Homo sapiens: one gene and its partners. The protein of the gene in region 1 interacts with the protein of each later gene in a pairwise test. Each region holds a gene or a part of one and is shown in the gene's direction. Other genes may lie near its edges. The genes, in order: ABHD5, PLIN1, TPD52L2 and PLIN5.

Evidence for each region.
Region 2: the proteins of ABHD5 (region 1) and PLIN1 interact in a protein complementation assay, tested with the Homo sapiens proteins (3 studies listed by BioGRID, with this or other methods).
Region 3: the proteins of ABHD5 (region 1) and TPD52L2 interact in binary tests that used the Homo sapiens proteins (3 or more experiments, as listed by UniProt).
Region 4: the proteins of ABHD5 (region 1) and PLIN5 interact in binary tests that used the Homo sapiens proteins (3 or more experiments, as listed by UniProt).

The regions. Positions count from the first base shown.
Region 1 is NC_000003.12:43,706,924-43,714,937, forward strand, and holds part of ABHD5 (1-acylglycerol-3-phosphate O-acyltransferase ABHD5), read left to right. Parts: intron 1-4,785; coding exon 4,786-4,940; intron 4,941-8,014. UniProt on the Homo sapiens protein: Coenzyme A-dependent lysophosphatidic acid acyltransferase that catalyzes the transfer of an acyl group on a lysophosphatidic acid.
Region 2 is NC_000015.10:89,675,988-89,683,916, reverse strand, and holds the start of PLIN1 (perilipin-1), read left to right. Parts: upstream 1-4,549; 5' UTR 4,550-4,666; intron 4,667-6,413; 5' UTR 6,414-6,427; coding exon 6,428-6,472; intron 6,473-7,929. Other genes in the region: PEX11A (peroxisomal membrane protein 11A), read left to right, coding at 1-540. UniProt on the Homo sapiens protein: Modulator of adipocyte lipid metabolism. Coats lipid storage droplets to protect them from breakdown by hormone-sensitive lipase (HSL). Its absence may result in leanness. Plays a role in unilocular lipid droplet formation by activating CIDEC.
Region 3 is NC_000020.11:63,860,139-63,868,858, forward strand, and holds the start of TPD52L2 (tumor protein D54), read left to right. Parts: upstream 1-5,131; 5' UTR 5,132-5,227; coding exon 5,228-5,246; intron 5,247-8,720. Other genes in the region: ABHD16B, read left to right, coding at 1,403-2,812.
Region 4 is NC_000019.10:4,521,647-4,525,854, reverse strand, and holds the end of PLIN5 (perilipin-5), read left to right. Parts: intron 1-22; coding exon 23-222; intron 223-778; coding exon 779-892; intron 893-1,769; coding exon 1,770-2,327; 3' UTR 2,328-3,324; downstream 3,325-4,208. UniProt on the Homo sapiens protein: Lipid droplet-associated protein that maintains the balance between lipogenesis and lipolysis and also regulates fatty acid oxidation in oxidative tissues.

The DNA.
Region 1 (8,014 bases):
CTTGTCTTTTATGGGCAGCTCCATTCTTCCATTCGTTACTTTTATAGGACAGTTTGAAGAGAAGAATGAAAAGGCCTAGTTTAATGCACTTGTTTAAGAAGGATTCTTACTCTAAAGAACAAATAAAAGCTGATCAATTTTTGCCAACTTTTGGATTACAGGCGTGAGCCACTGCACCTGGCCCGGTTTTTTCTTTTAATTTTCCTTTCCTTCTGGCCCCTGCTGCTCAGTACCCCATTAAAAAAACTATCTGTATTTTAAAGATATTTGTTATAAACTACGGAAAAGGAGATTATAGAAACTTTAACTTAGAAAGTGTTTAGCAAAGAGATCTATTCCAAGTTAGATTAGAATAAGTTTTCACTAGTCTTTATTTCTCTAGTAAAAGGTTTTTAAATAATTTTATCTTGAATACTTTTCTTTTGCCTGGCTCTGTCTTCTGATTGTACAGAACTGAGCTGAGCAATTTTTGTTGGCCCTCTGCTGTTCTAGGAAAAGCTGTTCTACTTGATTCGAAGTTGGAGATATTTAGTTTGTTGTTCTCTGGGCATTCCCTTTTCTCTCACCAATGGCTTGGAGCCAATGGGAAATACCTGGGGCCAACTTCATTTTGCAAATGCCTCCTTTGTGCATTGACTAGAGTTCTTTCTGATTATTTTCCTTAGATTCACTTACACATTTTGATTCTAGGTCTAATTGTTCTCCTTTCTTTTTTTTTCCCCCGAGACAGTGTCTTGCTCTGTTGCCCTGGCTGCAGTGCAGTGGCACCATCTCGGCTCACTGCAACCTCCGCCTCCTGGGTTCAAGTGATTCTCGTGCCTCAGCTTCCCGAGTAGCTGGGATTACAGGTGTGCACCACCATGTCTGGCTATTTTTTTGTATTTTTTGTAGAGACAGGGTTTCGCCGTGTTGGCCAGGTTAATCTTGAACCTCTTGCCTCAAGTGATCCACCTGCCTTGGCCTCCCAAGGTGTTGGGATTACAGGCATGAGCTACCACGCCTGACCTGATTATTGTTCTTGTTGCATTATTTCTGACTGGTGGCTGTCTTTAAATCTCATGAAGGTCAGGCTTATCTACCCTTGTTAGCATTTAGAGCAAGTGAAATCAGGTCCTAGTGTGTTGGTACAGGTGTTGTCCACTGCTTTGCCCTTAAGGATGTACTCTGCTCACCATCTTCAAACTCAAGGCCAATTCTAATGACTAACATTAAGAAGAATGCCTTTGTATATTTCAAAACTGATGAGCTGTTCTGTTGTTCCTGCTCTGCTGGTTCTTTGTTTTTCTTGTGGTTTAAACCAGTCTCTGGTTCTTGACAAGGATGTCTAATAGGATGACTCACATGTGCTATCTGGTTGGACCCATTCTTTACCCTAGATGTGAACTAACAATCCCAGCAGGGAACCCTCTCTGGAATATTAAAGAGTAGGGTTTAGCTAATTATAATAATTTAGATGTACATTAAAACCCAGTAACTCCTATCAAGTGAGGAGATAATATTTTTACTAAAAGCGGAGGTTAGAAGATAGCCTGGGACCTTGGTCTGGTGCAACATTGCAGTCACCTGTGATCAAGCTCTTCTGAAGAATAAATACCTGTCTTTCCATGTTCCCGGGAATAAATTCTACTCTTGTAGTCTTCCTATTCTTGCTACTGTAACTAGCTTACATTTACTGAATACTTACTATTCGATGGCCACCAACCTGAGTGCTTTGCATGGTCTATCTTATTTAAAATTCTTAAAACCAAAAATAAGGAACAATTATTTTCTGGGGTCTTTACATGTAGTAGAAGCAGATGATATATAACTACAGTTAACTATAGTTTAGATGTTGTAGAGTTTTAAAAAATTATGTTCAAACTTTTTTTACTATAGCCCTTCTATATTGTTTGGAATAGAAAAATACAATTGTATCACCCCACAAAACTTGTTTCAGACACCCATGCACATATACATTAATACAATTTTGTGGCCGGTATTCAATGCTTATGATTTATTTTTCTGTTCCAAACAGTATAATTTTATTTTAAAAAAGACTAGACTGGTTCTTGACCATCTAAATGGATTTTGTTACCGAATAATAAGATTAATAAATAGCAGTGATGTTCTGATGTCATCTGGGGGACCAGAAAAATCCAGCTGGATATGCTTATGCTATGATTATACTTTATAAAATTTGTATATCCTTAATAGACTAGGACTAAAAGAAAATGTGGAAAAGCATATTAATCCAAATGTTTACCAAGCATCTGCCATGTGCTAAGCCTCATGCTAGGTTATGAAGACATAGAATTGAGCAATTGTAGGGACAGTAGAATTGAGCAATTGTAGGGACAGTAGAATTGAGCAATTGTAGGCACGGTTCACTCCTTTTCAAAAAGAAACAAAAAGATCATCTGCCTTAGTATATATACTTTGCATAATTTGTTAAACTGGCATTTTCACCTAGGGATGAAATTTTGAAGATCATATTTAAAAGGCAAGCCAGAACTAAGGCAAAAACAGTCACTTACCTACAGACAGATGAGACTTCTGTCAAGTTTTCCTTTGTCCTACCTGTTTTTGGGTTAGCAGGTCAGAAAGAGCTTAGAGCAAGATCCATTAACAAATTTGTGACAAAAATTTAACTAAATTGTTTAGGGTAGGGTATGTTTTAATAAAGAGTTCATTTTTCTCTTTGGGAGATAAGTCAGTAGTGAATAATAGTGGCTGTTTCTTAACATGAATCTTTGCTGCTTTCAACTAGGTGGCTGTCTCATTAGTTCTACTCATACCCCTGTTAGGCCTCTTCCTTCCCCTACCCCAGATCTTATTGTGGGCTATAATTAAAGGAATTTAGGGCCGGGCACAGTGGCTCAGGCCCATAATCCCAGCACTGTGGGAGGCCAAGGTGGGCAGATCACGAGGTCAGGAGTTCGAGACCAGCCTGAGCAACATGGTAAAACCCCATCTCTACTAAAAATACAAAAATTAGCCAGGCGTGGTAGTGTGTGCCTGTAATCCCAGCTACTCAGGAGACTGAGGCAGGAGAATCACTTGAACCTGGGAGGCGGAGGTTGAAGTGAACTGAGATTGTGTCACTGCACTCCAGCCTGGGCGACAGAGTGAGACTCCATCTCAAAACAAATAAAAATAAAAAGGAATTTAGGAGGTGGTCAAAATATAAGAGTTAGTCTTTGCCATTAAAAAACAAAGCAAAACACTCATTTCTAACCTCTTTCTGATACACTATTAGAAAATGTTCTCATATGAAATTTTTAGGCTGTGAAGGCATACTTCATAATTAAATGAAACTCATTTATCACATATCTTCATACATCTCTATGGTTATATTCTACATATGTTAATGCTATGAAGTTTGGAGTATAATATTAGGACTGGCCTTGAGAGTTGATAAAGGTTAAGTTTTACCTTTACTAATATGTCTCTCTTATGTTGATTAGCCTATTTTTAGAAAATAAAGCCTTCTGCCCAATTCCTTGTCGGCATCTGCTGGTATGCTGGGGTAGAGAAATGTGGGTTTCAGCCCTAGTTCTGTGTTAACTAATGTTATGTACCGGAGCAGGTCATGTAGTACATCTCAGCTTCCTTCTTATCTAAGATGATTGCACCCAATATTCTCCAAGGTACCATAGAGCTCTGTGCACCAAAGCTTTCTGTCTGGAAAGAAAACAGTCACAGTATGGACCTGTTACTAACTTATTCTTATGCATGCTGACAACAATAATAGAATAGATTTTATATGAAGAATAATACCATCTGTGCCCATGTTTTAGATTCTTTACCTTTCTGTTTCAGTTATAACTTAGGAAAGGGACTTTAGAGTCATTGTCAGTTATCCTTGGGAGATTTTTGGCTGGCATTTCTTGGCTGGCTTGGTTACAGTTGAACATTGTATTGTATCAGAAGGATCTTTGTACTTTGTTTGGAATCTTTATGATGTTTAAAGCATGATGCAGCTATGTGGAAGTACTGCTGATAGTTCTGGTTTTCCTTCATTGGGAAGAAGTTTCATAAGATGGAAAAATTAAAATGATTAACAATATGAAATAATTGTATATGAAGTTCTACTGAATATTTTCTATCTCTTGGTCAATGAAAAAGAAAATTGGGAAAGAATTGAAAACAGAATCTAATGTCAGTATAGCGTGATATCATGGATAAGGTAGATAGACTTGTTCCTTTTCAACAATTCTAGAATCCTGAACTAGGGAGTGTTTTCAGTCCACGTTACGTTATCCTCATGTTTATGAAAAGTTAATTTAAAGTACTTTTGAACCCGCTTTAAGTCCTTAACTTCACTTACATTTTTAGGATGGTTGATTCATAGGAGATAACTGTTGTTGGTATCTGAGGCTATTTTATAAGAATGTGATATTGATCTTTAGCCATTTTTGCAGTGTCAACCTAGACATACATGGAACCATTGGATTTTTCTGAGTGGCCAGTGATCTACATCATCTGCCAGAGTGTAACTTAAATAACAAATGCCCTTTTTTCTTTTTCTCAAGAAACACACAGTTCTGTACTCTATATATCTTTTATTATTCACATTTAGATATATTAAAAATAAAGCCCTCTTTCTACCATACACCTCTTAGATCCTACTGAATCTCAAAAGTTTACACAGAATAAGAGCATGATACGATCTATTTAGCACTAATCTTTAACGTGAAGGTTTTTGAAGGTGGTTCATTCTACCTTTATTTTATAAATCATGTTAGCTCTTTATAGTCTTAGGGTGATTTTACCAAATGAACTTAAATATATTCTTTCCCCCAACAGGGTTAATCATCTCATTTTAGTGGAGCCTTGGGGTTTCCCTGAACGACCAGACCTTGCTGATCAAGACAGACCAATTCCAGTTTGGATCAGAGCCTTGGGAGCAGCATTGACTCCCTTTAACCCTTTAGCTGGCCTAAGGATTGCAGGACCCTTTGGTGAGTGCTTATGTTCTAGGAAAGCAAAATGTTTGTAAGTTATGAGAAGAGCAGAATTCACTATTGTTAGTCAAAATCTTAAAAACAAACAAGAAAACCCTGAACCCTTACTTTTTCTCCTCTTCCTCTAATAAGTACCATGTCTTGCACAAAGACGAATGCAACTAGGTTCTTCTCCTCAAAGGAGAGTCTTTATATTGTAAACATTGTGAATAATTAGCAAAGCAGAAAAGGAGGGAATGCTGAGGATAAGGTTAGTCAGTCCTCAACACTCTAAAAAAAGCCAGGCAAGCAGAGTGTTTTGGGGAGTATATAAGGACCTCTGCTAGTCCAGGGCCTGGGAGAAGTGTAGCATGTTGCCCTGCTGGTGAGCACTGGAGAGCGTTTGGCCAATTGATGATACCATTTGGTACCATAAAACCTGATTTGATTGACCCTGGGGATAACAGGTACCACCACACTCACAGATTCTTCCCTTATCCATGTCAGAGTGTTGGAAAGATAAAGTTATTTTTTCCACAACATTTTGGGGACTCCTGATATATATTTCTGGTCATATTTTGAGGCACCAGTGTTTAGTCCCTGATTGACTTTTATTTGACTCTCAGCAGTTCTGTCTCAGCCCCATAGCCATGGGAATTTCCTTCCCTCATTGTCACAGATAATGATGTTCTGAACTTCTGCCTTTCCCCCGTACAACTTGTATGAATTTGGAGTACTTTTAGTTGTAAGTAACTGAATACCCAAGAGGCTTAAACTAGAAGGACTTTTATTATTTCCTTAATAAGCAATCTGGAGATAGGTTTTAGCACTTGTTCTGGTTGCTTGCTCATTGATGTTAGGGTTTGGGTCTGTGTCTGTGATTTTCTTGACTTTTTTCCTCACGGTGGTTTGATGCCTGCCATAGCATTAAGCATCATCTCACAAATCAGCGCCCTGAGCAAAAAGAAATAAAAGCACGAAAAATGGTCCTTCTCTCCATAATGCTTTGTCAGGGAAGAAAGTCCTCTCTGGAAGGCTCCACCTGACCTCTGCTTATGACTCGGCCCACTCCTAGTCCTTCCACCAGCAAAGAAGAAATTTCTGTGATGCACCAATCATGATTTGTTTCCAGGGCCTGCTTTCCTGGGCATGTTGCTGCCTAATTGATACTATAGAAAAGATGCGTTCTAACCAGGTGCTGTGGCTCACACCTGTAATACCAGCACTTTGGGAGGCTGAGGTAGGCAGATCACTTGAGGCCAGGCTTTGAGACAAGCCCGGCCAACATGACAAAACCCCATCTCTACTAAAAATACAAAAAAATTAGCCAGGCATAGTGGCACACACCTGTAATCCCAGCTACTCAGGAGAGGAGGCTGAGACATGAGAATTACTCAAACCTGGGAGGTGGAGGTTGTGGCGAGCCAAGATCGCACCACTATTCTCCAGCCTGGGCAACAGTGCAAGACCCTGTCTCAAAAAAAAAAAAAAAAAAAAGGAAAAGAAAAGAAAAAAGAAAAGATGGGTTCTGTTAGTGAGAAAAGAGAAGAGGCATGGGGGTGTGGAGGAGGTTGTGGGATTAACTGTCATGCAGGTGACTGTAAATGCTGTTCCCTTCTGCCCAACCCTGACCCCTCCTGCCCTAGTGCCTTCTGTTTGGATTGGGAGAGCAGTGGGACTGCAGGACTTAGAGGAGGATATGGGGGTTGAATTGGTGACCACACTTTATTGCTTCAGTGCTCACAGATGGCACATTTTGCCCACCTGCAGTCTTTCAGCCCTCCCCAGTAGAGCCACTCCTTACTATGCCTGGTCCTTCTCTGGTAAACTACTTAAGAGCTTCATTTAGTCTTTATAGTCCTGAAATATAAATAGATTTTACTAGAACACAGGTACAAAAATAACAATTATGGGAAAAGTAAAGTATGAAGAGAAATTAGGAGACAGTGATGGGCAAGGGAGGACACCTAGGAGAGGCTCTTTAATGCCATGCCCTCAGCCTGCCATTATTGCTTGCACTTGGGGGTGGGGAGGTGATGTAGAATCAATTGCATGACAGAATTTCTTGGTGGAGCTGTATAATTCATCAGAGATGGGAAGAGAGGGCCAGTAGAGAAGTAAAGCCTTGCTGGAGTCATGGGGTAGTGGTAGCAGAAAGGGAGACCAGTCAGTCTCTGGGGCCTCAGAATAGAAAAGTGTGACTAGAAGAAAGCTTCTGCTCTTCATCCTCTTTCCCTTGTGGGCCTTGCCCTGGGCTTTTTCTTTTCTTTTCTTTCTTTCTTTCTTTTTTTCTTTTTTTTTTTTTTTGAGACGGAGTCTCGCTCTGTCGCCCAGGTTAGAGTGCAGTGGCGCGATCTTGGCTCACTACAACCTCCACCTCCCAGGTTCAAGTGATTCTCCTGCCTCAGCCTCCTGAGTTGCTGGGATTACAGGTGCACGCCACCACGCCCGGCTAATTTTTGTATTTTTAGTAGAGACAGGGTTTCACCGTGTTGGTCAGGCTGGTCTCGAACTCCTGACCTTGTGATCCGCCCACCTCGGTCTCCCAAAGTGCTGGGATTACAGGCTTGAGCCATCACGCCTGGGTGTCCTCGGCTTTTTCTAGAGTGGGGCTGTGGGCGCCACCAGGGATAACCTTAGCAGGGAGTCTCGCTAGTGTCCCAAGAAGAAGCTGAATTTATTTTCACACAGAAATAATTATGTATACCAGTTTACTTCATTTAGAAGTTAATGTGTTATAATTATGGAAGAAATACAAGTTATTACATTAATTTTTACGTACGAGCTACTCGCCACGTTTAAAGAATTTATTTACCTACAAAAGTGCCTTCTAACTTACATGTTTTTGAGGCCCTAAAGTACATCTGCAAGTCAAAATACAATACTCTTTACTTCTTATATTAATATTTCCTTGGGGAACTTTAGGAGGACAGCTATCAGAATGTGTGCTTTTTCCCACCTACAATATATATTTGAATACATATATATATGTGTGCATATAACACTCATTACACAGACAAGCACTAAAACTTTCTATATTATTTAGTTGATAAGTTAACTATAATTTAAAACATGCATTTTTTAAATTTCCT
Region 2 (7,929 bases), on another chromosome or scaffold:
CAGGCAACTGAGCAGAGCATTCATGCCACTGACCTGGTACCTCGCTTATGCTTAACATTAGCCAACCTGAACCGTGTGATTTATTTCATCTGTGACACCATCCTCTGGGTGAGGAGCGTAGGTCTCACCTCTGGCATCAACAAAGAGAAATGGCGAACGAGGGCTGCTCACCACTACTACTATTCTCTTCTGCTGAGCCTGGTCAGGGATCTGTATGAAATCTCCCTGCAGATGAAACGAGTTACATGTGACAGGGCAAAGAAAGAGAAATCAGCATCCCAGGATCCTCTTTGGTTCAGCGTGGCTGAGGAGGAAACAGAATGGCTCCAATCCTTTCTACTTCTTTTATTCCGATCTCTGAAGCAGCATCCTCCCTTGCTCCTGGACACAGTGAAGAACCTTTGTGATATCCTGAACCCTTTGGACCAGCTGGGGATCTATAAATCCAATCCTGGCATCATTGGACTTGGAGGTCTTGTGTCCTCTATAGCAGGCATGATCACTGTGGCATATCCTCAGATGAAGCTGAAGACCCGTTAGGGTGTTTTTAGGCTTGGAACTAGTACCTACTTTAAAAGATGGCCTCTTGGTGGGACAGACATTTGTATAAGTCACAGGCCATGTCATACTGTGCTTAAGTTCTTGTTCATGTGAGCATTTAACAACCTGTGATGTGGGCAGAGATGAGGCCAAGAACGGAGAAGGGAGGAGCATGAAGAGTTGTATGTTTTTGGAGTGCTGGAGTGACTTGTGAATTTCTGAATATTTTCCCTTCATCTAACATTGATTGAACATCTCTTATGTGCATAGTGGGAGCTTAGTATTTGCTGAATGAATAAAAATTGAAAGGAAAAAATTTAAAAAGACCCAATCGCACTGATCATTGAACACCAGTATACAATAACTTTAGGGTCATATGGATCATTGGTTTCACGATTACAGTAGGTCTGGTGCATGGCACTCTCAGATCTAGTAGAGGCTCTGATGTCAGTAGCAGGATGGAGGAGAGCTGGGCTTACAGCCTCTCAACTTGTTGGCCCTTATACCATCACTGCACTCATGTCCTTGCTCTGTGCAGAAGTAGAATCAGAAAAGCATCAGGCACCTTCATGGTATAAATTGTGTCTATGGGTGCAGTGAATAAGCAAAAATCAGAAGCAGACCGGAGGGACTTATAAAAATAGGTACAGGGTCACAATGGGTGCCTATATGTAGCCTGTGACAGATAAGAAGCTGACAGTGAGACAAACAAAAAACTGAGGCTAGAGCCTCATTCCTCTGACTCCTAATCCAGTGTTCTCTCCATGCTCTCCCACTGTCTTCAGAATTGAGTAGAAATGTGATCCCCTCCTGAATCCTGTTTTTTGCCTCTTACTCTCCCATAATTTGGAAATTTCCTTGTCCAGTGGTTTATATTCTTTTCTAGAAAAACTAAAACTGGGTGGAGTGTGGTGGCTCACACCTATAATCCCAGCACTTTGGGAGGCTGAAGCGGAAGGATTGCTTGAGGCCAGGAGTTCAAGACCAGCCTGGGCAATGTAGTGAGACTCCTTCTCTACAACAAAGTGTTAAAAAATTAGCCAGGCATGGTGGAGTATGCCTGTAGTCCCAGATACTCTGGAGGCTGAAGCAGGAGGATCACTTGAGCCCAGGAGTTCAAGGCTGCAGTGAGCTTCCACCGCACTCCAGCCCGGGTGATAGAGCAAGACCCTGTGTCTTAAAAAAAAATTAAGACAGTATTTAGACTTATCAGTTAGATTGTTTTATTTAAATCCTTCTAACAATTTAGGCAATTCTACATTAATTTTCATCAAAATTTATCCAGTCAAAAAAATTTCATGAATACTCCAGATGTAAGAGAGTCACAATTTTCTACGATAAATCAGACATCTTATTTCTAGGGTGATTGAGGGAGGTGGAAAGCGCAGGAGGAAGCCAGTGAAGAGGACAATGGAATGCTGAGTCAATGACATTGACTTGTGTTCCTATCTGCCATCTTGGGTGTGGGTCTTTATATGTGGTTACAGATCCTTTAGTTTGAGGGAGGTGAGGTAGAGAAATAGGATGCCAGCAGGTAGGAGGCCGATGTCAGTCCTCCCAGCAAAGCTGTGTCATTTATCTGAATGGAAATGAGAAAATAAATATGTACTCAATAAGTCACATTTCCCAGAAATGTGATTGAGATTCTCAAAAAATAGACTCAGATTCTTGGCTGTCTGTTTAACCAATCACGATATGGGATTTGAGAAATAAAATTTAGGGAATTTTAAGAGACATGAAAGCTACTAGGTCAGGGAAAATAAAAAGCTTAAATAACTATTTTTATTGTCCAGATCCTCTACTGTAATAGATTAACTATGTTCAATAAATTTCTAGACAAAATTGACTTGTGTCTGTGAGTGTGTTCTGGGAAGAGAGAAGAGTTAAACATAAGGCAATCCATCAGATAATCCTCAATCAGCCTACACAGTTGGTACAGCGAGCTCTGGGCTAGAAGATCCAGGCTGAGGAGGAGGATGGAGAAAGATTGAGATGTAGAGCCTCTGGGTTGAGAGGGACCTCTGAAATGAACTCATCTAGACTGCTGCCATGGAGATGGTGCTCTACAGTAGCCCTGTCAATCGCTGGCTGGCTTCTGCCTAGGTAAGTCTGCCTTGAATTCATGGTGGTATGTTATGTTACAGTGGTATCCATCTTGGTACTTTTGTCCTCTGCAATGGTGAGTGGTGGGGAGTTTGGGAAATACTACCTCTTCTAAGAGGTTTGTGTAAACCTTAATGGTGTCCTGGTACCACCCTGTGAATCCTTCTTTGTAACTAATGTTTTCCACCCCAGAGCCTCCACATTCATGAGGGATGCCAAAAATCGAAGAAGTTCTTCGTAGATGTACAGCCCAGCACATTCACAACTGAGCATTGTTGCCTGACAATTCATTTATTCAACAATGAATGTTTGAGTGCCATGCATGGTTTTGGGTATCCACTTGTGAGCAAGATGACCTAGGTCCCTGCTCTCACTTGGTGGAGGGGTAGGGAAAGCAGGTAGGTACGGAGAAGGAAAGAAGATAGAACTCTATGCCCTGCAAGCTACTGCTAGAAAACTAACACTTCTGTCTTCCCTCGGGACTCTCCTAGGCCCTTTCACCACTTCTCACCTCTCACCCACATTCTGCACTCCCAGCTAAAGCAGCCAAAGGACTATTTGATTTGGCAGAGCTTTCAGGCACAAAGCCCTATGTTCCCTCTGGCCCAAAGCCACTACTCTGAAGGCTGAAAACTGCCCTTTGGCTCAGGTTGCTGTCCAGTCACAGCCTCACAGATAATTTGTGCTGAACCTTGAGGTGAGGGCAGAGGCCACTTCTTTAAATACTTTGTCTTCTCTACTGCCTTACATTTGAAAAGCACAGGTTGGATCAATAAGTATTAAACGTATAGCGTATTACTCCTTTGAAGCCTCCCTGCTTGACTCCTCCCTTTCCTGCCTTCTCATTCCCTACTTTATTGCATCACAGATACGTAATTTATTACCAAGGATCTTTCATAATTCCCCACCCCTGCCTCTTTCTTCTCTTGCCCACACTGTGTGACTTAACAGAGTCAACAATACATATAATTCCACCAGCAACAAAGAAAATAAGTTTTGTTTTCCTATTGTCTGTTTTCATGAAGAGGCCCTTCTTAGTTAATCTGAAAGCTATGGCTTATACCATAGTCCTCCATCATATCTAAAGCCAGGAACTAGAACTTGGGCTTGTGCTTGAGTCCTGGGTAAAGAAGGGTTGAGTGGTGCTAATTCTTGGCTGTCTGGGTGCTCTTGATTAGTGATAGAATCCTAGTCAACACTGTCGCTTATCCAGACCCAGGAGAATAAAAATCTACTTGGCTCTCCTACTCTTCATTCTGGTAGCATCTTAGGCCAGGTAAAGTTCAATAAATTTTTTTGAATTCTAAGAAGTGGGAATTCCTCCCTCAACTCAAAGGCTATATTGTCAAAAACTCAACTCCCGGCTCTGTCGCTTCTTCACTGAGGGCAATTTATCTCCATAATCAAAGATGAATACATTCAGATGAACTCTTCTGTGTGGGTTTAAATTTTACTGTTCAGCATTCAGTCTTGCTAGTAAATAAGAAAAGATGAGAGAAATGGATTGAAAACTCCCACAAGACCCTCTATGGAAAAGGAGCCAAAAGATTGCAGAGGTATATAGAACTTTAGAGCTTTTGAGTTTAATGATGTCTATCCCTATACCTTCTTTCTGGAAAGCAGATTTTTGTGAATTGAGGGCAGGAACATTACAGAACTGATGCTTCATGGCTCTGGAATACTAAGTCCTCTGAGCCTGGATCTCCTTCAGCTCTGCCACCTACCTCCTTGTTTGCTAAATGTCCTTAGAGAAGTTAGGATATGCCTGGGGAACCCTGGGTCATATAACCATGACAACTGGCTGACCCTGTTGTCTCTCCCTCTCTGCCCTCCTCTAGCTGGGAGGTGGAAGCAGCATTGCCCAAGCCTCCCAGGAGTGACAGGAATTGTTTCTGCCTGAGGAGACACTCTGCAGCCTGGGCTCTGTGAGACTGAGGTGGCGGTCAGCCGGAGTGAGTGTTGGGGTCCTGGGGCACCTGCCTTACATGGCTTGTTTATGAACATTAAAGGGAAGAAGTTGAAGGTAAGGGCCTCTTGGGGATTTTGCTGGGGATGAAAAACTCTGCAGGGAAACTACTGAGGGAGAGATTCTGGTATAGATACCAGAATCTAGAAATAGAGGAATTGGATAGGCACAGTGGATCATGCCTTTAATCCCAGCACTGCAGGTGGCCAAGGCAGGTGGATCACTTGAGCCCAGGAGTTCAAGAACAACCTGGGCAACACAGTGGGATCCTGTCTCTATAAAAAAAGAGAAAAAATTAGCCCTGCATTGTGGTGCATGCCTGTAGTCCCAGCTACATGAGAGGCTGAGGTGGGAGGGTACCTTGATCCCAGGAGGTCAAGGCTGCATTGAGCCATGATCGTGCCACCACATTCCATCCTGGGCAACAGATTGAGACCCTGTCTCAAAAAACAGATAGGGAGAGGGGGAGAGGGACAGACAGAGAGAAAGAGAGAAATAGAGGAATTAACCCAGAGCCTTTTCAAAGATGAAACCTTTAACTTGTTTATTTATTTTTTTAGAGATGGGCATCTCACTGTATTGCCGAGGCTGATCTCAAACTCCTGGGCTCAAGCAATTCTCCCATGTCAGCCTCAGTAGCTGGGATTACAGGTGCTTGCCAGTGCACCCAGCTTGAAACTTCTTGTTTTAGTCTCTTTTGGACCCTCATTTAAGAGCCTTAAGATTTTATCTAAAACTTTTTATCTCTTATGGCTACCTGCATTTTTTATTTCCTAACCTGAACTCCTTTTTTTTTTTGAGACAGAGTCTCCCTCTGTCACCCAGGCTGGAGTGCAGTGGCAGGATCTCAGCTCACTGCAACCTCCACCTCTCAGGCTCAAGCGATCCTCCTGCCTCAGCCTCCCAAGTAGCTGGGATTACAGCTGCCCACCACCACGTCTGGCTAATTTTTGTATTTTTAGCAGAGACGGAGTTTCACCATGTTGCCCAGGCTGGTCTTGAACTCCTGAACTCAGGTGATCTGCCTGCCTTGGACTCCCAAAGTGCCGGGATTACAGGCCTGAGCCACCGCGCCTGGCCTCTTAACCTGAACTCTTATAGGAAACATTATTCTTGGCCGGGCATGGTGGCTCTTGCCTGTAATCACAGCACTTTGGGAGGCCAAGGTGGGCAGATCACTTGAGGCCAGGAGTTCGAGACCAGCCTGGCCAACATGATGAAACCCCATCTCTACTAAAAATACAAAAATTAGCCAGTGTGGTGGTTCATGCCTGTAATCCCAGCACTTTGGGAGGTCTAGGCAGGTGGATCACTTGAGGTCAGGAGTTCGACACCAGCCTAGCCAACATGGTGAAACCCCATCTCTACTAAACAGAAAAAAAAAAAAAAACTAGCCGGGCGTGGTGGTGGGCGCCTGTAATCCCAGCTACTTGGGAGGCTGAGGCAGGAGAATCCCTTGAACCCGGGAGGCGGAGGTTGTAGTGAGCCGAGATTGTGCAACTACACTCCAGCCTGGGCAACAGAGCAAGAATCCATCTCAAAAAAAAAAAAAAAGAAAGAAAGAAAAGAAAAAGAAAGAAACATCAGTCTTGACAAGTAAGCTATGGAGCAACTCATTGCTATGGGACCCTAAGGAGTGGGGCTATTGTGTGTGATATTCACCCTCCAACCTAATGCCTTCTGTTCAGGGCAAATGGGCCCCCAGGCAGCCTGGGCCTAGTTGGTGGCCATGAGAGGTAGGGAAGTGACCCAGTGGAGCTCAAGCCTGAGGGCTTCTGATGGGACCTGGGACTCTGTTTTGCAGCTTGAGGAGCGAGGATGGCAGTCAACAAAGGCCTCACCTTGCTGGATGGAGACCTCCCTGTAAGTAACTTGGGCTCATCTGTGACAGGGGATGGACAACTGAGGGAGGAGGAAGAAGCAGGGAGGGGAGATGCAGGGGACTTAGAGCAAGATATTCCCAGATTATAATCCTAGTTCATTGACTACCATGGCTTAGTTATTCTTGCCCTCACCACCTTTTGTAGGGGGCAGTTGGAGGATCTGGGAGGGGAAAAAAAGATGCCTATTAAAAATTAAGCACCTTGAAAAAAAGGGACAGAAATCCTGGCTTAGGGACGGGGGGAGTGGAGAGGAAGGAAACTACTGTTTAAACCCTGACGCAGAAGCCCATGCTCTGTCCACCACCCAGCTGGATGTGCATTCAGTGCAGAGCCACTGTATTCTGTGTCTCCAGCATCATTCATAACGGCAAATGTCACCTGTCGGAGTTAGACGGTGCACAGCCTGTGCTGCTGTGTGGGGGGAAGGGTGGGATATTCCATGTGTCTGGTGTTCTATCTCTGACCTGGTTTTCACTGTGACTTGAAGTGATTTGATACTTTTAGGGATGCTTGATGGCTCCTGGCAAGGCATCTCAGATTTGGGCACAGTTCGGATAGTGAAACTTAAAAATTATGAACCTGTGCAATATCCACCTTGCCCAAGTTACGCTTTTACTAACTCCTGCACTAGGAATCACTTTGTTTTGTATTGAATCATAGAACAGAGAGAGGCGTAAAATGGTCAAGTACATGGTTAAGCCATTCTAACAGACGGTGGTTTATTCCCTTCCCAGGATCTCTTTCCTCCTTCGGTTTTGTGTAAAACAACCTCTGAAGCCTCGTCCAAAATGTTAAAAAGAATGTTTTCTTGTTTATAGTCATAGTCTATTTCTAGTTCAAATTTCAAATTCACCTGCAGGATAAAAAACTAAGATATTGGCCAGGTGCAGTGGCTCACGCCTGTAATCCCAGCACTTTGGGAGGCCAAGGCGGGCGGTTCACAAGGTCAGGAGATCAAGACCATCCTGGCTAACACAGTGAAACCCCATCTCTACTAAAAATACAAAAAATCAGCGGGGTATGGTGGCGGGCGCCTGTAGTCCCAGCTACTTGGGAGACTGAGGCAGGAGAATGGCATGAACCCAGGAGGCAGAGCTTGCAGTGAGCTGAGATCGCGCCACTGCACTCCAGCCTGGGAGACAGCGAGATTCCATCTCAAAAAAACAAACAAACAAACAACAAAAAAAAACTAAGATATTGTGGGCTGCTCTGTCTTAGTGTACATGTAGGTGTCATTGATGGGGGTCTTTGAACTCTGCCTCCTACTAACAGAACAGGTCAGGTCTTCACTTTGCGAGCAAAACCATGCCACAGTGTCATATTCAAAGCTACAGAGAGCCTGAGCATCGGAATCTGACCTGGGTTTTTTTTTCTTTTTACTTTTGATATGGAGAATTCTCAACATTCATAAGAATAGACAGAAAAGAACATAGGAAG
Region 3 (8,720 bases), on another chromosome or scaffold:
TTTCAGATAAACAATTTTAAAATAATGTCTCAAGCAGAAGTTGGAACATACTTATACCCAAAAAGTATTTGTTTATTTGTAATTCCAATTTAACTGGCATATTATTCTGTATTTTATCTGGCAACCTAGAATGGGGGTAATAGCCCCCCAAATCGCTCCCTTTGTTAATTGGTCCCTGTCTTCTGTCCCCCAACCCCTAAAGGCAGCAGCTGACTCCCCCAACTAGGGGCGGGGCCTGTTAGGGTCAGGCAGTGCCTCTAACCCAGACGCTGAGCAGGAGAGCAGAGAGGGGGTGCTTCAGCCTGAAACTACCCCTTCCCCAGAAGGCTGGGGTCCCAGGCGGGCCTGGCACCTGGGCTCAGAGGCTCTGGCTGGATTTGCCAAACTCCCTGATTGTAGCATGTTTGTTTCTGGTCTGGGGAGCTGTTGAGTACCTGGAGCTGCCCTCTTCCCTGGGGCTCCTCCTGGCAGGCGGCTTCCGACCCTGCCCTCAGGTGGGCTGGCCCTTTCCAGGGCAGGAGAAAAGATACCTCTCCAGAAAAGAGGGAGGCGCAGCCTGGGAGTGGGGGCTCGACCCAGGAGCGAGAAAGAGGAACCCCAGCCAGGCAGGACCCGCCCCAGAAGGTCACTGCTGTTGCTGGCAGCCAGTGAAAAGAGGATCCAGAAAAGGAGAGGGCTTGTTTCTGGTCAGCACCGAAGAAGGAAGGTGTGGAGAGGAGGGGCCGGGCCGAGAGCAAATACCGCCTTTTTGGTGCAGCAGCAGCCCTGTCTCTGACCCCGGCCGTCCTGGGGAGATGAGGTTTAAACCAGCAGACCCTGAAGGGAAACTTGCAGGACCCACAGCAAGCCTGGTACAGGCGGAGGAGGCCTTGCTGTCCCTTTTTGGCCCGTGGGGCTGTCCATCTTAAATTTAAGGAAGAGGGAGGCGGGGTGCAGGGACTCACACCTGTAATCCCAACACTGTGGGAGGTGGAGGCGGGGTGCAGGGACTCACACCTGTAATCCCAACACTGTGGGAGGTGGAGGCGGGAGGATCGCTTGAGCCCAGGGGTTCAAGACCAGCCTAGGCAGCATAGTGAGACCCCATCTCAATTTAATAAATAAATAAGGAAGAAAGAGGGAGACAGTAGCTGCTCAAATCATGGGTGGGAAAGCTGGGCCTGGGAGCGTTTAGCTGGTGGGGTCTTGGCGAAGGCGGGGGACGGGCAGAACCTTGGGTTCATCATCTCTGGGAACCCTTTGTGCACCCATCACCTAGCAACAGGATGCAGCCTTCCCTCCGCCCTGGAAGGCCAGGTCACAAAGGCCATCAGGGCTTGTCCGGGAGCCGGTATCCCCTAAGACTGCCCTGTGCCTCTCGCGGCGATCCCGGCCCAGCGGCTGGGCGTTAGGGCCACCGCTCATGTGCGTCATCTGCTTCGTGAAGGCGCTGGTGCGCGTGTTCAAGATCTACCTGACCGCCAGCTACACCTACCCATTCCGCGGCTGGCCCGTGGCCTTCCGCTGGGATGACGTGCGCGCCGTGGGCCGGAGCAGCAGCCACCGGGCGCTGACCTGCGCGGCAGCCGCGGCGGGCGTGTGGTTGCTGCGGGACGAGACGCTGGGCGGGGATGCGCTGGGGCGGCCTCCACGTGGGGCGCGCAGCCAGGCGCAGTGCCTCTTGCAGCAGCTCCGCGAGCTGCCCGGCCAGCTCGCTAGCTACGCGCTGGCCCACTCGCTGGGCCGCTGGCTCGTGTACCCCGGCTCCGTGTCCCTGATGACGCGCGCGCTGCTGCCGCTGCTGCAGCAGGGCCAAGAGCGCCTCGTGGAGCGCTACCACGGCCGGCGCGCCAAGCTGGTGGCCTGTGACGGCAACGAGATCGACACTATGTTCATGGACCGCCGCCAGCACCCGGGCAGCCACGTGCACGGGCCGCGCCTCGTCATCTGCTGCGAAGGCAACGCGGGCTTCTACGAGATGGGCTGTCTGTCTGCACCGCTCGAGGCCGGCTACTCCGTGCTGGGCTGGAACCACCCCGGCTTCGGCAGCAGCACTGGCGTGCCCTTCCCTCAGCACGACGCCAACGCCATGGACGTGGTGGTCGAGTACGCACTGCACCGCCTGCACTTCCCGCCCGCGCACCTGGTGGTCTACGGCTGGTCTGTTGGCGGCTTCACGGCCACCTGGGCCACCATGACCTACCCGGAGCTGGGTGCACTGGTGCTGGACGCCACCTTCGACGACCTTGTGCCGCTGGCGCTGAAGGTCATGCCCCACAGTTGGAAGGGGCTGGTGGTGCGCACCGTGCGCGAGCACTTCAACCTCAACGTGGCCGAGCAGCTGTGCTGCTACCCGGGGCCGGTGCTGCTGCTCCGACGCACGCAGGATGACGTGGTCAGCACTTCGGGCCGCCTGCGCCCCCTGTCACCTGGTGACGTGGAGGGCAACCGGGGCAATGAGCTGCTGCTGCGCCTGCTGGAGCACCGCTACCCCGTCGTGATGGCGCGAGAGGGCCGCGCCGTCGTCACCCGCTGGCTGCGCGCTGGCAGCTTGGCGCAGGAGGCCGCCTTCTATGCACGCTACCGCGTGGACGAGGACTGGTGCCTGGCGCTGCTGCGCTCCTACCGTGCACGCTGCGAAGAGGAGCTGGAGGGCGAGGAGGCCCTGGGGCCACACGGACCCGCCTTCCCATGGCTGGTGGGCCAGGGCCTGAGCTCGCGGCGGCGCCGGCGCCTCGCACTGTTCCTGGCTCGGAAGCACCTCAAGAACGTGGAGGCGACTCACTTCAGCCCTCTGGAGCCTGAGGAGTTTCAGTTGCCCTGGCGGCTGTAACCTATATGCCCCAGTGGGGGATCACGCACTTGAACTCCTGGCCTTCTTGGTTCACCTCCCCATACCGCCAACCATTGCAGGGGGCCGGCGCCGACGCGGGGCGGGGCGGGGGGGGGCGCGCGGGGTGCTCCTGATCTGCTGTCTGGGGGAGGGTAGGCAGAACACGGGGACTTGGTGCTCTCCTTCCTTCACAGGGGCGTTCTGACCGTCCTCCCATTCTTCCTAGCTCTGTCCCCTCCTTTCTCTCTTCCTCCTACAAATACTTTTGGCTGCCCCCACCCAGCTCCTAAGGGAATGAAAGGTTAACCTGACCCGGTTTATGGCAATACTGTGTGATGGGTGCCTTGATCACCACAAAAGGATGATGGGAACGGGGCTGTGGGGTCCCAGGGAGGAGCCCTTCACCTGGCCTGGGTTACAGGATGGCTCCTGGGAAGACAATGCCAGCTGTGCGCTGAAAGTCTGTGCAAGCTGCTCCCGTGAAAAGGAGGACATTGGCATGGCAGGGCTGTGGGCAGGTCTTAGTGGCTGGACATTCCCAGGAGTTAGCACTGGCTATCATTCTGTAGGGCTCCCTCCCACCTCCAAACTCCTGGCTTCTACACCAGGGCATTCACAGACAGATTGCAGACTCACATGGTGGCATGTGAGGCTACAGATACACTTGCACAGGCCAGAGGATACTACTGCGTGTCCCCTGGAGCCAGGCCTGGGCTGGACTTTGTTCCTGGCTTAGGGATGCAACACAGAATGGGACAAGGCCTCTGCTCACAATGGTCTGTAATGTCACATCTCTGTGGTCTGCCCTGAACTGCCTGAAGCAGGGACTATTGTCCCTACATGTCCCTAGTCCCCGGGCTGGCCTGGTTGGGTTGAGCAAGAATCTCTGGAAAGAATGAAAGGCAGCAAATGGAGAAAACATTACTGAGAGCACGAGAGCAGGCTAAGGCCGTGGTGGTAAGGGACTCGGGCCTGTGCAAGAGTACCAGGAAGACACCTGTGGGAGGAGGTGGCCGGGTGAAGGAAGGGGCAGTGGGAGGAGCTTCCATGCCTAGGGACCAGTACCACCCCAGGCTGGAAGCCCAGAGTGGAGTCCTAGGACATCAGATCCTAAAGGGCTTGAATACCGTTTAAGGCTTTTCTTCCGGGAGCAAGTAGGAGCCAAAGAAGGGAAGTTGCGGGACTTGTTTTCGTGGGGCCAGTTGCCTGGTGGTTACGCGCCTCTCCTCTGAAGTCAGGCATCCTGTTCCAGAGTATCCTGGTTGCGCTTCAACTTGCGGAGTGACCTGGGGCAAGTGACTTTAACCTCAGCTTCCTCATCTGTGGAGTGGGGAGGGCGCAGCGCTGGTCGCCCTGAACAGGAAGTGAGACAACCTCGGGGTGCACACGCGCAGGCCCGAGCCGCAGGGTCCACGCCCGAGGCGAGGCGGCAGCGGCGCCTGCAGGGCGAGGGGACGAATCGCGATCTTTTTCAGAGTAACCCGCGTACAATAAAAAGTCCCCATGAAAAGGACAAACTAGCCAGGCGTGAGGGGCGGTGGCTCACGCCTGTAATCCCAGCACTTTAGGAGGCCGAGGCGGGTGGATCACCTAAGGTCAGGAGTTCTAGACCAGCCTGGCCAAGGTGGCGAAACCCCCGTCTCTACTACAAATACGAAAATTAGCCGGACGTGTTGGCGCGCGCCTGTAATTCCAGCTACTCGGGAGGCTGAGGCTGGAGAATCGCTTGAACCCGGAGGGCAGAGATTGGAGTGAGCTGAGATCGCGCCATGGCACTCCAGCCTGGGCAACAAGAGTGAAACTCCGTCTCAAAAACAAACAAAAAAGGACCAACTAAAAAAAGAATATAAATACAATAAATAACAGGACTTACGGGGGCAGGCTGACCCCTAAAGTAAGGGGTCGGGCTGGAAAGGATCTCAAGGGGTCAGAGTTTGAGCCGCCGAGGCGCGCGAGCCCCAGCACTCCTAGGCAGCTGCATCCGCCCCGGAAGATCCCCTGGGGCCCTGCGCTGGCTTTCCACAGCGCCATGTTGGACGGTCCTCCCACTTCCCACCTTCCCAGTCCTCCCGCTACTCTGACCGTTCTACCTGTGATTCTCGCTGGTGGAGTCAACCTGGAATGGATTCCCGCCGAACCACGCCTCCCTTTCCTGGTTCGCCCGCAGTTTCGGCCTATCAGGTTGAGTCGGGTAAACCAGGACGGGCCAAGCGGCACTCTCATTGGATATCACTGGTGGGGGCGGGAAGAAGGCGGAGCACGTGCCCGGGCGGAAGTAGCCGTCGCATCGCGGATTACGAAACGCCGCGGAGCTGAGGCAGTTCCGCTGGCTAGTGTGTACGCGGCGAGCTTCTCCCGGCGCCGCCCGCTCGGCTCCCATAGCGCCCGCGACAGCGGTCCGGACGCCGCCCGAACATGGACTCCGCCGGCCAAGGTACCTGCCGGGCCCGGCCCCTTCGCCGCAGATGGGCCCAGGCTGCCCGTTGTTCTCCGTCTCCCGGGGTCGCGTCTGCGACTCTCTGTCCTCTCGGTCTCGGTTCACCCACCCCGCGGCCCCTCTTCAGCTCCCGGGGCCACTGACCTCGAAGCTTATGATGGTCGTGGTGTGTTTTTTGCCCGCGGCCCAGACCGCTTCCTGGGCTCTCTCCAGCCGCCCTCCTGGTCTCCCCTGGGACCGTTCCGAGGTGTGGTTCCCTGGCGCCCGCCGTTGCTCCCGTAGTTTGGGTTCTGTCGCTCCCAGCAGGTCTCGCTTATGCCGCCCACCCCGTGCCCTGCTCTTGCTTGCTCTGCCACCCCCCGGTCCCTGCGCGGGGCCCTCGGGTTCACGCTGTCTGGCCCTGGACCCAGTCCGAGGTGTTGAGGGCGGCTCCCGAGCAGAGAAGGGGTCTTCGCGTTCAGCAGAGCTCCCCTTGGGCAGCAACTCTGCTCGGAGCTCAGCCTGCTTAGGGGTTGCCTCATGGAGAGGGGGTGGAGTGAGTCAGGGGCACACCCAGCATACCAGGCCTGTTTCCAGAACAGTCTCCCCAGAGCAGTATGAGATGGCCACTGAGGGGCGTGGAGCGAGCCCAGGAGATTAAAATCTTGAGAAGATGATAAAAGTCTGCCTTGCATTTTGGGGCTCTAGAGAGGGATGCTAAATTTCTTTCTTTCTTTCTTTCTTTCTTTATTTTTTTGAGACGGAGTCTTGCTCTGACGCCAGGCTGGAGTGCAGTGGCGCGATCTCAGCTCATTGCAACCTCGACCTCCCGGGTTCAAGCGATTCTGCTGCCTCAGCCTCCTGAGTAGCTGGGACTACAGGCACGCGCCACCAGGCCCAGCTAATTTTTGTATTTTTAGTAGAGGCAGGGTTTCACCATGTTGCCCAGGATGGTCTCGATCTCTTGACCTTGTGATCCGCCCGCCTCAGCCTCCCAAAGTGCTGGGATTACAGGCGTGAGCCACTGTGCCCGGCTACATATTAAGCTTTATAATTCCTAGGTGCTGCATTATTCTGGAGGGTGTTTTTTGTTTGTTTGTTTTTGTTTTTTTGAGATGGAGTCTCACTCTGTCGCCCAGGCTGGAGCGCAGTGGCTAGATCTCGGCTCACTGCAAGCTCCGCCTCCCGGGTTCACTGCCATTCTCCTGCTTCAGCCTCCCAACTAGCTGGGACTACAGGCGCCCGCCATCATGCCCGGCTAATTTTTTGTATCTTTAGTAGAGACGGGGTTTCACTGTTAGCCATGACGGTCTTGATACCCTGACCTCGTGATCTGCTTACCTCGGCCTCCCAAAGTGCTGGGATTACAGGCGTGAGCCACCGCGCCTGGCCTTTTTTTTTTTTTTTTTTAATTTTTTTTTTGGGGACAGCGTCTCCCTCTGTCTCCCAGGCTGGAGTGCAGTGGTGCAATCATAGCTTACTGCAATCTTCAACTCCTGGGCTCAAGCGATCTTCCTGCGTCAGCCTCCCAGGTAGCTGGGACTATAAGACTACAGGCGCACCATGCCAGGTTAATTGGTCTTTCTACTTTTTTTTTTTTTTTTGAGACGGATTTTCGCTCTTGTTGCCCACGCTGCAGTACAATGGCGCGATCATGGCTTCCCGCAACCTCTGCCTTCTGGGTTCAAGCGATTCTCCTGCCTCAGCCTCCCGTGTAGCTGGCATTACAGGCGTGCGCCACCATGCCCGGCTAATTTTGTATTTTTAGTAGAGATGGAGGTTTCTCCATGTTGGTCAAGCTGGTCTCGAACTTCTGACCTCAGGTGATCTGCCCGCCTTGGCCTCCAAAAGTGCTGGGATTACAGGTGTGAGCCATTGTGCCCAGCCTCATTTGTCTTTTTTTAAATAGAACAGAAAGGCTGGGCTCGGTGGCTTACGCCTGTAATTCTAACACATTGGGAGGCCGAGGCCAGTGGATCACTTGAGGTCAGGAGTTTGAGACCAGCCTAACCAACGTGCCAAAACCCCGTCTCTACTAAAAATAAAAAAATTAACCGGGCATGGTGGTGTGCTCCTGTAGTCCCAGCTACTTGGGAGGCTGAGGCAGGAGAATCGATTGAACCCAGGAGGTGGAGGTTGCAGTGAGCGGAGATCGTGCCACTGCACTCCAGCCTGGGTGACAGAGTAAGACTCGTCTAAAAAAAAAAAAAAGAGAATCAGTGGATAAAAAAGTGGATACGCTTCGTTTAGTAAGCGTTTGTGGAGCGCCAAGGAAGTGCACACGGCTCCAGTCCTATGGGACATTTGAAGGGAGTGAGATGCAGCCAGCTTTTAAGAAGAGTATCTTTGTTAAGTGCATTTAATCTGGTGTCTTTGTGTTGTCTTTTAAAAGGCATAGTTTTTTTTTCTTTTTCTTTTCTTTTGTTTTTTTTTTTTGAGACAGTCTCAAAAAAAAGAGACGGGGTTTCACCATATTGGCCAGGCTGGTCTTGAACTCCTGACCTCAGGTGATCCGCCCGCCTCAGCCTCCCAAAGTGCTGGGATTACCGGCATGAGCCACCCCGCCCGACCAGTTTTTCTTTTTTTTTTTAAAGAATTTTTTTTTGGCCGCGCGTGGTGGCTCAACGCCTGTAATCTCCCGGGTTCAAGTGATTCTCCTGCCTCAGCCTCCCAAGTAGCTGGGAACTACAGGCGCGTGCCACCACGCTAACTAATTTTGTATTTTTAGTAGAGACGGGGTTTCACCATTTTGGTCAAGCTGGTCTCGAACTCCTGACCTCATGTGATCCACCTGCCTCGGCCTCCAAAAGTGCTGGGATTATAGGCATGAGCCACTGCGCCTGGCAGTAAGCCTGTTTCTTTTCAGAATGTTTTGGTCAACAGGGAAAGTGTTACAATAGTCATGTGCTTGGATTTGGAGAGAATCGAAATAGACTGTTTTTCTTTATGTGAAATCTTGTAGACTTTTAGGGTAGTCAGGAAGATGCATTTGACATGAAGAAAAAACAGTGGCTGCAGGAATTTGAATGTGATCTGGGTGTAGTTGAGGTGTGTGGTGGCAGCACACCGCTCTGCACCTCTCTGCCTGCTGGCGGCCTTCTGGCAGTGGGATGAGAATCGGGAGGTAAGTAAAGGGAATTTTGTTTTGCTGCCTCCCTGAAGGAGCTGAATGAGCAGCATGTGCTCCTAGTACGTAATTTTAGCATGTGCTCTGTCAGATGTGTTGAGAGGAAAGTGATGCTTATTGTGTATATTAACCATATTAGGTTCCTTTTTTTAAAAAAAGTGGAAATTTGTCAGGGTATGGTGGCTCACACCTGTAATCCCAACACTTTGGGAGGCCAAGGCGGGCGGATCACCCGAGGTCGGGAATTGGAGACCAGCCTGGCCGACATGACGAAACCCCGTCTCTACTGAAAATACAAAAATAGCCAGCGTGGTGGCGTGCGCCTGTAATCCCAGCTACTCGAAGGCTGAGACAGGAGAATCACT
Region 4 (4,208 bases), on another chromosome or scaffold:
GTCCCCGTATCCTGTCCTCCAGCGGCACTGGCGGCTGAGGCTGAAGGCCCTGAAGTGGGTTCGGTGGAGGATCAGAGGAGACAGCAGGGCTACTTTGTGCGCCTCGGCTCCCTGTCAGCACGGATCCGCCACCTGGCCTACGAGCACTCTGTGGGGAAACTGAGGCAGAGCAAACACCGTGCCCAGGACACCCTGGCCCAGCTGCAGGAGACGCTGGAGCTGGTGAGAGCCCGCTGCCCGCCCCTGCTCCGGGATGCAGGCCAATCAGTATGGATTGAGCACCAGCTGAATACCGGATCCCGTGCTAGCCTAAAGCAGGAGGCGGAGCTGGGTGCAGCTGTCTCCAGCTGCATGTGTTCAGGGCTGGGGGACCCGGGCCTGGAGGAGCCCAGGGATGTCATGGCTCTGCCTGGAGAGTCAGGGAGGGGTTTTGTGGAAGAGGGGAAGGAGAAGCTGGAATTTATAGCAAGTTAGGGTAGGTCAGAAGAGAGCCTTCCTCCTCATCAGAATCCTCCCATCCTCAGCTCTTCCCTCCCCGCAGCAGCCACCAGAGGGCACCTGTGAGCCCCTGAGTCAGGTCTGTCCCTTCTTTACCCACAGCCCTCTATGGCTCCCACCTCCCTTGGGGTCCAAGCCCAAGTCTTCCCCACGGCCCTGCACAACCTGCCTCGGTCTCCTAAATGCTTACTGAGGCCAGATCAGTGGTCCTGGACCCCACCCCGACCCCCAGCTCCCCCAGCTCCCCCAGCTCTGAAGACCACCATTTCTGTCCTTGCAGATAGACCACATGCAGTGTGGGGTGACCCCCACCGCCCCGGCCTGCCCTGGGAAGGTGCACGAGCTGTGGGGGGAATGGGGCCAGCGCCCTCCGGAGAGCCGCCGCCGGAGCCAGGTGAGACCGCAGGAGTGCCAGGTGAGGTGGTGTCTGCCACCAGGCCGCGGAGGAAGAGGGGGAGCGACGGACTGCGGGTCAGCCCAGTACTGCCGGGGACCCAACTCAAGCTATCTCAAACCAAGTGCTGAGCTCAGCTAGTTGAGGTGTCTGGGGGGGGAAACTGAGGCAGGTTTAAGTCCCATTGTGTGTTTTATTTATGTATTTATTTTGAGATGGAGTTTTATTATTTTATTATTTATTTATTTTTGAGATGGAGGGAGGTGGGGGGAAAGGGGGGTGTTGGCCCAAGCAAGCAGTAGTCCCTGGCTTCCCGCCCCTTCTCGCTTTCCCTCCCTCCACATTCTCTCCCTGAACCTATAGCCTAGAAACCATCTCTCCACTTTCCACTTTATTTATATTTATTTATTTGAGAAGGAGTCTGTCTCTGTCGCCCAGGCTGGAGTGCAGTGGCGCGATCTCAGCTCACTGCAACCTCCGCCTCCCGGGTTCAAGCGATTCTCCTGTCTCAGCCTCCTAAGTAGCTGGGACTACAGGTGTCCACCACCACGCCCAGCTAATTTTTGTATTTTTGGTAGATACGGGGTTTCGCCATGTTGGCCAGGCTAGTCTTGAACTCCGCACCTCAGGTGATCCGCCCGACTCGGCCTCCCAAAGTGCTGGGATTACAGGCGTGAGCCACCGCGACCGGCCCCATTGTGTGTTTATGAAGGAGACTGAGTCAGGGCTGGGTCACATTCTGTGTCTACAGGGGACAGGACTATGAGGTCTATGAGACAGGTTGACAGCTCCACTGTGGGTCCATCAGAGAAACCGAGGCAGGACAGCAGTCCTCCTGGGCGTCCATAGGGGAAACTGAGGTCCCCGCCCCCTGCAGGCAGAGCTGGAGACGCTGGTGCTGTCCCGCAGCCTGACCCAGGAGCTGCAGGGCACGGTAGAGGCTCTGGAGTCCAGCGTGCGGGGCCTGCCCGCCGGCGCCCAGGAGAAGGTGGCTGAGGTGCGGCGCAGTGTGGATGCCCTGCAGACCGCCTTCGCTGATGCCCGCTGCTTCAGGGACGTGCCAGCGGCCGCGCTGGCCGAGGGCCGGGGTCGCGTGGCCCACGCGCACGCCTGCGTGGACGAGCTGCTGGAGCTGGTGGTGCAGGCCGTGCCGCTGCCCTGGCTGGTGGGACCCTTCGCGCCCATCCTTGTGGAGCGACCCGAGCCCCTGCCCGACCTGGCGGACCTGGTGGACGAGGTCATCGGGGGCCCTGACCCCCGCTGGGCGCACCTGGACTGGCCGGCCCAGCAGAGAGCCTGGGAGGCAGAGCACAGGGACGGGAGTGGGAATGGGGATGGGGACAGGATGGGTGTTGCCGGGGACATCTGCGAGCAGGAACCCGAGACCCCCAGCTGCCCGGTCAAGCACACCCTGATGCCCGAGCTGGACTTCTGACCCATGGGCCAGTGGAGGCGGGGAGGAAAGGCCACCTGCACACCCCGATCCCTGCTGCCCCCTGGTGGCCACACGTAAGCTCGAGGCCTTGGCCTTGACCCTTCTTTGGAATCAGGCCCAACTCCGGATCTCTGACCACCTTTTTGGTATTGGACTCTCCCATTTTTTCCTTGAACACATGGACAAAGAGGCCCGGGGGAGCAGGGCCTCGAACCCTATTCAGGCCAACTTGAGCCACAAGCTGGGTTCTTCACCTATGTCCTGCTCCCTGGCTCCATGAAGCGAATCCAAATCTTTCCAAGAGGCTGGGCACAGTGGCTCACGCCTGTAATCCCAGCACTTTGGGAGTCTGAGGCAGGTGGATCATCTGAAGTCAGGAGTTCGGGATCATCCTGGCCAACATGATGAAACCCTGTCTCTACTTAGAAAGAAAGAAAAAAAAAAAAAAAGCCAGGTGTGGTGGTGTGCACCTGTAGTCCCAGCTAGTTGTGAGGCTGACGCAGAAGAATTGCTTAAACCCGAGAGGCGCGGAGCTTGCAGTGAGCAGAGATCGCGCCACTGCACACCAGCCTGGGTGACAGAGCGAGACTCCATCTAACAAAAAATAATAGTAACAGCCTCCCGAAGAAATACACATTTTGCCCAATGCCTTCTGTTTGGGGCTTTGAAAAGTGAGCCCTGACTGGGTGTGGTGGTTGACACCTGTTATCACAGCACTTTGGGAGGCCAAGGTGGGAGGACTGCTTGAGCCCAGGAGTTGGAGGCTGCAGTGAGCCATGATCTTGCCCCTGCGCTCTCGCCTGGGTGACAGAGCAAGACTCTATCTCAAAAATGTTTTTAAAAAATACTTCCTAGGGAAACACACATTTTGCCCTATTTGGAACTTTGAAAAGTGAGCCCTCCTCTGCCCATGGGCCGTGCTGCTCAGCCTGCCATACTCGCTTGCTTTGCTGTTTGGGATTTGCCTCCAGAATAAAGGTCCTTTTTGTTGTTGAAAGGCCCACGTGTGTGTTCCAGCCAGGGTGAGTCTCAGTCCCAGGGGGCTGGGGGCCACGGAGGTGTGTCACTGCTGAGACATGGAGAAGGGGGTGTGTAGAGCCAGAGTTCAAGATCTAGAAGAATGGTGCTTCTCTGACCTGCCTGTCATCCTGTCTGGGATCCACCGTTACTGCCCAGCCCATGTGGGGTAAGCATTACCACTTAAAATTAGCCGGGCACCATGGCTCATATCGGTAATCCCAGCACTTTGGGAGGCTGAGGTGGGAGGATTTCATGAGCCCGGGAGTTTTGACACCAGCCTGGGCAACATAGGAGACCTTGTCTCTACGAAAAATTTTAAAATGACACATGGTACGAGCCTGTGCCCCAGCTACTCGGGAGGCTGAGGCAGCAGGATCGCTTGAGCCTAGGAAGTTGAGGTTGCAGTGAGCTTGGATCAGTAACCACTCCACTCCAGCCTGGGCAACAGAGTGAGACCCTGTCTCTAAAAATAAACAACAGCATTGCCCCTTTGGCCGCATGGAAGCTGTTCTCATCTTGGTACAGGTGAATTTCATGGAATTGCAGGGAGCAGAAAAGATGGGGAAGGAGTCAGATGGGGCAGCTCTCTCTCTACCTCCTGGTCCTGCAGGAGCTGGTCTTGCTGTGGTCTCTCCAGCTGCACTGGCCAGGATGGGAAGACAGAGGCAGGGCAAGGGCCATAGGCTGGTCTCGGGGGTTTCCTCCTGTCCTCTGACCGCATTCCTGGCTGCTCTTCCGACTCCCCTGGGGCTGGGCGGGGTGTTGGGAAACCACAGCTTGGTATGGTGAGGTCAGGGTGGCCCCTGACTTCCCTGGGACATAGTCCAGAGGGCAGCTCTGGGATCTCCGACCACTTCCACC